Homo sapiens: one gene and its partner. The protein of the gene in region 2 purifies or fractionates together with the protein of the main gene of each other region. This does not show direct contact. Each region holds a gene or a part of one and is shown on either strand. Other genes may lie near its edges.

What was found.
Region 1: the proteins of MAGED4B (region 2) and NSMCE4A purify together in Homo sapiens (affinity purification with western blotting, with the first as the bait; one study listed by BioGRID). This does not show direct contact.

The regions. Positions count from the first base shown.
Region 1 is NC_000010.11:121,964,987-121,968,808, forward strand, and holds part of NSMCE4A (non-structural maintenance of chromosomes element 4 homolog A), read right to left. Parts: intron 2,821-3,822; coding exon 2,669-2,820; intron 400-2,668; coding exon 300-399; intron 1-299. UniProt on the Homo sapiens protein: Component of the SMC5-SMC6 complex, a complex involved in DNA double-strand breaks by homologous recombination. The complex may promote sister chromatid homologous recombination by recruiting the SMC1-SMC3 cohesin complex to double-strand breaks.
Region 2 is NC_000023.11:52,061,177-52,063,927, forward strand, and holds the end of MAGED4B (melanoma-associated antigen D4), read right to left. Parts: intron 2,575-2,751; coding exon of another isoform or gene 2,527-2,574; intron 2,298-2,526; exon of another isoform or gene 2,171-2,297; intron 1,926-2,170; coding exon 1,811-1,925; intron 1,489-1,810; coding exon 1,058-1,488; coding exon of another isoform or gene 1,054-1,057; exon of another isoform or gene 1,046-1,053; intron 863-1,045; coding exon 853-862; 3' UTR 651-852; downstream 1-650. UniProt on the Homo sapiens protein: May enhance ubiquitin ligase activity of RING-type zinc finger-containing E3 ubiquitin-protein ligases. Proposed to act through recruitment and/or stabilization of the Ubl-conjugating enzyme (E2) at the E3:substrate complex.

The DNA of each region.
Region 1 (3,822 bases), on a different chromosome or scaffold from region 2:
AGCATCCTACAATGCGCAGGACAGCTCCCCAAACCAACATTATCCAGCCGTAAATGTTGACAGTGCTGAGGTTGACCCTGGCTTCGGAGAACTGATCAAAACTAGAGAAATGAGTTAAAACAAAGACAAGCAGCCAATCCAATAAAATGCTTAAAGGCTTAAATAAAATGATTATTTAAGTGACAAAACCTGGCTCCAGACCCGCACACTTAGAAAAAATGGCCAAATTGCATGCACATTATTTTAACAGCTATTTTAACTTTAATGTGTTTTTTTAAAAGCAACATTTTAAAACAAACCTGGGCAGGCATTGCCCTCTCCTCTTGTATCACAGGAACTTTTCTTGGACGATCAACTCGTGGCTTTGGCACAGGGCACTCTCCGTATATTGAACCCAACCTAATGAAAAGTATGCTTTCATTTATTTTTTTTGCCTGTTGTTTGTTAAACAAACTAACTTTACTAACTAAAAGTAGTTTGCATGGTATAGTCAAATTCAGACCAGACATCAGTGATATACAAGCTGACATCAGAGTAAGACTCTTGATAAGGTTTGTGACAGCCTTTCTGCCTTCTTTGTATTTCTAAAAGAACTCCTAGGAGCTTTACTCAACCACAGATACCTCCTCAGACACCTACATACTGCCCTGTAAAGTAGGCCAGTGAATATGCCTGTGACATCTTCCCACCACCCAACCTATTGTTTTGCAAAGCCAACTTCTAAGAGCAGGGGAAGGATGAACATGTATGTGGGGAAGCTCCAGTGGGGTCAGAAGACTTTGATCTGGGGAGGCCAAGGCAGAGGCTCCCAGCCCAGGACTACAGAACACATCTGTCTTAGGATAACAGGGCAAGTCACAGCCATGGGATTCCTTTTCCTTCTGGATTCTGCCCTCATGCAGACTTGGGTTACAGTAATAGATGTAAGTCTGCATCATGTAGAGATCAAAGCCCCAAGAATAAGGCTCATGTGGTCCCTACCCTTGAGGAGACAAAAATATACGATGTAGATGGACAGCTGCATTATGCACACAGATCCATTTCAATATAACATGGTGGGCTACTCTGGGAACACTCCTGCTCCACAAGGAGCAGTATAAAAAAATAAATTAATCAAATTTTAAAAAAGCAACATGGTAGATCCTGGGCGCTTAGAGAGTACTGCTCAAGTGCTATGAGAACACTTGGGCAGAGATATCTACCCAGACATGGGAGTGACGTGGTTGAGAAATCTGATCCTACACTGCTAACACCTCTGTCTGGAGAAGTTGCTGGAGGCTTCCAAGATGGGGCCTGTGGGATAAACAAACTTTACCGAATGGAAAAGATGAAAAGGAATTGGAGGCCAAGAGAACAGCAAGTACAAAGACACAGAGTTTTAAGTACTTCATTGTGGCTGGAAATTGGGCTGGATGATGAGATAAAGTTTAAGGCTTTATCTTTATAACCTAGGATTTATGAGTTTAGTACAATAGCAAAAAACAAAGATTTAGACTTTATCCTAAGATGAAGAAGTTTGGACTACATCCTATTAAATAGAACATACACAAATGGCTCTGGGCACCTGAGTTACCTGAAGTCTTATTAAAAATAGATGCCAGACCCCACACCACACTACTACATTGGCATCTCCAAGGCCTTCTACCCGAGCTACTATCAATCTCAATGGTTTTTAGAAAGACAAATTAGAAAAGACAAAAGCCCAGGAGCTATACCACTTAAAGAAGGACTGAACAACTCAGATGGCTACCCTAAAGTATTTACTGGGCAACAAAACCAGTATACTTGAAGGTCCTCTTAGAGAAGAGCCAGTAAGAGCTGTTCTTAATTTCTCCATAGGACCATGCCAGGAAGTTAAGACAGAAGCCAACTTCATTCAAATATAAAGAAATCTTTTTTTTAAATCAGAGTTCTATCTAAAAAATGAACTGGACAGTTTATGTGGCAGTGACAAGTAATCTTCAAATACAAGTCAGTGGTCATCTAACAGGGTATTATAATAAATGTCACTTTAGACGTTGGGAGACTCATAAGATACCCTCAGTAGGAGGTATCATCCTCCTATATGATAAGGATTTTAAAGATGATAAACCCAGAGTCTCATGAGCTAGAAGCAAAGGAGCCAGGAGAGCACTGGTAAAGAGGTTCTGGCCTTTTCTGCTAAAGCAGAATGAGAGATCCTTTAAGGTTCCATCCACATCTAGAGTTTATGGACTTTTTTTTCTTTTTTGAGACAGGGTCTCACTGTCAGCCAGGCCGGAGTGCAATGGCGCAATCTCAGCTCACTGCAATCTCTGCCTCCCAGGCTCAAGTGATCCTCCCACCTCAGCCTCCCAAGTAGCCAGGACCACAGGCATGGGCCACTACAGCGGGCTAATTTTTTGTATTTTTGGTAGAGATGGGTTCTCGCCATGTTGCCCAGGCTGATCTTGAATTCCTGAGCTCAGATGATCTACCTGCATCCACCTGCCAAAGTGCCGGGATTACAGGCATGAGCCACCACACCCGGCCTAGTGTTTATGAACTTTCATATCAAAGTTTCAAAAGTCTCCAAACAACGGCATCATGACTGTCACCTCTACAATACCAAATAATCTTTGTCCCTACAAGAAAAAGCAATTTAAGGTTCACAAATAACTGGTCTGTTGGATTTTTAAAATAATCTTACAGAAAGTGGAATGTATGGGTTTTATTAAAGGTGTTTTCTGCTGTTCTGCCTGTTATCTTCCAGGAGTCATAGACTATGAATTCAAAATCAGGACTATCTTCATCACGGATGAGTTCTTCAGCTTCTAGCGGATTTACACCCATATGTGTGAGCTACAAAAATGAAGGAAAACAAAAAACCCAGTTAAGCCACATGCAATCATTTTCCACATCCAATAATCCGCATCACTCAACCTTTAAGAGGCCAGACGCAAAGCCAGCTTTCAGTGTCTTAACATGCTGGCTAAATTTCTTACTGTGAAGATAACTTTACAGTTAAAGTCCTGCTTCCAAAGCTACCTTCTTTTTGGCAGAAAACATTCCTCAATGTACTTAAAACCTTTGGGTGAGAAAGTGAAATGATTTAGACCAGTGGTTCTCAACCTGGGTATACGTGCCCACAGGGGTCTTCTGGCAATACCTGGAGACATTTGTGGGTGTCACAACTGATATGCTGCTGGCATATACTGGGTAGAGGCCATGGAGGCTGTTGAATATCATATAATGCACAGTAACAGCCCCCAAAACAAAGACATGCCCAGCTCAAAATGCCAATCCATAGTGCCAGTGCTGAGAAACCCTGCTGTAGCCCACTGGCAGCCAGAAGTATTTAGGTATGCCAGAACTCAGCCCCCTGGGATTTTTTGTATCACCAATAGTTCGTGTATTAGTAAAGCTGCACTAACATATAAATATAAAATTAAATCCCAAATCAAAAGCTTCAAGACAGCACAAGGAAGTTCAGCTGGTTTTCAGATTTTAATTTTTTGCCAACCTCCTACAAATCTCTATTCAGCTTGTATCTCAGTATATCCAGAGAGCAGTGGCCCGGCATCACTGAGAGAATGGCTCATCTTAAAATTGCCTTCCTGGGAAGAGTTGGCGGAAGTCAAATAATTCTCTCATCTCAAACTGTCTTACAGAAAATGTGTTATATTGAATTTACTTTTATGAAAGTACATTTTTATTACATTATACTGTAAAATGCCTAGAAGTTATCCAATTACGATGGCAATATCATATATAAACAATAATCACAAAACCCTCAGGGAGCTTAACCCTATTAAAGGCAATCAGACTTTAAAGAAAAGAAAGGCTACAAGAGCCTGGTCAGAG
Region 2 (2,751 bases):
TTGTCCTCACTGGGAGAGCCCTGCTGCTGGGGGAGAAGGGCTGCGAAGCTCCAAACAGGCCGCCGTTCCGTCACAGGCAAGGGGCTGTGTACGCGTGCACCGTGCGTTGTTTTTATTACATCCTGCTCCCTCAGCAATCACGGCCCCTCCTTCTACCCACTGGAGGGCTGCGAACATCACTGCGGGGCCCACCTCATTGTCCGTCAGACTCTGTACCGAGGACGGGGTCCTGAACTGTGTGGATGATGAGCCAAGGGTTCCGGAACATCATCTCCAAGGAGGGGGTGTGGGAGGTGGGTCCTGGTGAGAGCCTTGGACCCTGTCCCTCGGCGGGAGGGGCAGTGGCACCAAGCTGCAATTTTCCACCCCGCCCCTGCTGTGGCCCCGACTCTTGCCATGTCCCTGGGGCTGCTGAGCAAGGTTTGTAGAAAATCACATAACGATGAGCACTGGGGCCTCTCCAAACTCCTGCTCACGCACTCAGGCGTAACCAACCTCCGCACCTCCCAGCATCCCACCTGTCCCTGTGGGCCTTTTTGGCAGAGGTGGGGCCCACCTACCCCAGAGAGCCTGAAGAAGTTTCCTTGCTACAAGCCCAAGCGTGGCCAGGTATAGCAATGGGTGTGCAGGTAAAGGAAGAAACATCCAAATTAATTTTGCAACTTTAATGTAACACTGATACCCAAAACATGAAAACACAAGGAAAAGCACAAAATGAAAGCAGGAAGAGCAAAGAGAGCTTCATCTTGCATGCCACCTCCGACTGACAGGAAGAAGCCGCCTAGGGTGCTGTGTCGAGAAGGAATCTGAGAGGAGGCGCTCTGGCTTGGCCAGTAAGATCGCTGCAGTTCGTCAACGGTGCCTATAAAAGCACAAGAAACCAAAGTGACAACATCCGTGGACACACGCGAACCAGGGAGGGGTGTACGTAACAAAATAAGTGTCCGTCCATGCTGTTGCCGTTGCCCCCAGCGCCCCCACCCTGGCCCTCCCTCTGACATCTCACCCCCCTCCGCAGCCCTCCTGCAGAGTCTCATTTCTCTACCGAAACTCTTACTGGATCCAGGAGAAGAAGCTGGCGCCAGCTCTGGCAGCATTTCTGGTCCGGATGGTGGAGCTGGTGCTGGGGCCATCTAGGACGCTGGTGCTGGCCCCTCCATTGGTGCCACTGCTGACGCCAGCTCTCCACGTGGCCCTCCTGTTGGCACGGTTGCTATTCAGAATGTACTGATGGTATCTGGCCCAGAAAGCAAAGGGGATCCTGGCCCAGGCATCGCCAAAATCTCCGTCCTCATCCCAGGTCAGGAGCTCGACTTGTATGTCATCCCAGCTCCACCGTCCAATCAGCGCTTCATCCCCGATATTCATCTGGGCCCTCATCTGGGCCCTGGCATGTTCCTCGGCCATATCCACATCCATTGTCTTGAAAGCATCATCCACAGCCTCCAAGAAATGAGCCTTCCATTCCCGGGGGTCTCGGTTCTGATTCTGAGGAGGAAAAGGGCAGGCATAGACACAGAGCTACCCCACACTGGCTGAGCACCCGCGGCCCGCCTCACCCCCTCCCGTGTGCTTTGTGCAATGATGGCAAAAATCAGGACCACAGGGATTGGGGGCTCCTACTCTCCTGTGCCAGACCTGGGATTTTGCCCCATCTGTGACCTTGTGTAGGGTGCTCAGGTGCCTCTGTGAGTGTTTGGTACCCTCACTGGAATACGGGGTAATGGGAAGGAGGCCTCGACCAAGAAACAAGCAAGGTGTGGAGAGCACCACCCCCGGTGCCGGGCACCCAACAGAGGCGCTCCCTTACCTGGGCGATGAATCTCAGGACCCTCATCTTGCTGGTCTCATGGCGGGCTCGCAGGCCCCAGAGGAATTCATACTCAGGTGGGTTGCTGTTGGGGATCTTCTTGTATTCCAGGTACCTTGGCATGAGAGGAAAGTAAACTTTGCTGCTAGCCAAGCAGACCTGTTGCTGAACGGATGGGTTCCAGGGGGCCCCTCCTCAACCCGATGCCGCAGCTCAGCTCCTGGAAGAGGACTGTCCTGCCCCTCCAGCCCTTCACTCATTCCCAAACCCACTCCCAGGACTTCTGCCTGCAAAAGTGAGGCCTTCAAAGCCTTTTGCCATTGGTCCTCCCCGGAAGCCATGCGGAGGTGCAGGGGGTCCACATGTAGGGCATTTGTCTGTAGGGAGGCCACAAGTTTGTGCCCCTCATCACGATGACCCCAGCTTCCTGTTGGGTGTGTTGTAAACAGAGGAGCCATTCTTCAGGCCCCCTGCTCTGAGCACACCCCACCTCGAGGGTCTTGGCCACACCCCGGCGGAGCCCTGGAGAGGCCCACCAGAGGAAACGACTGGAGAGGAAGAAACAGTCAGCCAGGAGAAGCGTGCTCCAGGCATCCTCCTCAAGTCCTGACCCTTTGTTGGTGTGCATGCGCGCCTGTGCGTTGGCAAGTCCTCCAGGGACGGGGAGAGGGTGGCCCCTGGCCTGAAAATCAGGAGAGTTGGGCTGAGGCCCTTACCAGCTGGGAGCCATGCTCAGAGGCGTCTCCTCTCTGAGCTCCGGGTTCCTTAGGTGTAAACCAGGGGGAACTCTTGTGTCAGTCTACAGGGCAGGTGCTCAAGGTGATGGCGGCCGTTTTCACACCCCACACCGTGTTCTCAGGTGACGTGAGCTCCCTTTTCCCAAGACCGCCCTGGCCTTCGGCTCCCCACACACTCGCATACCCCCCACTGCCACTCACTCC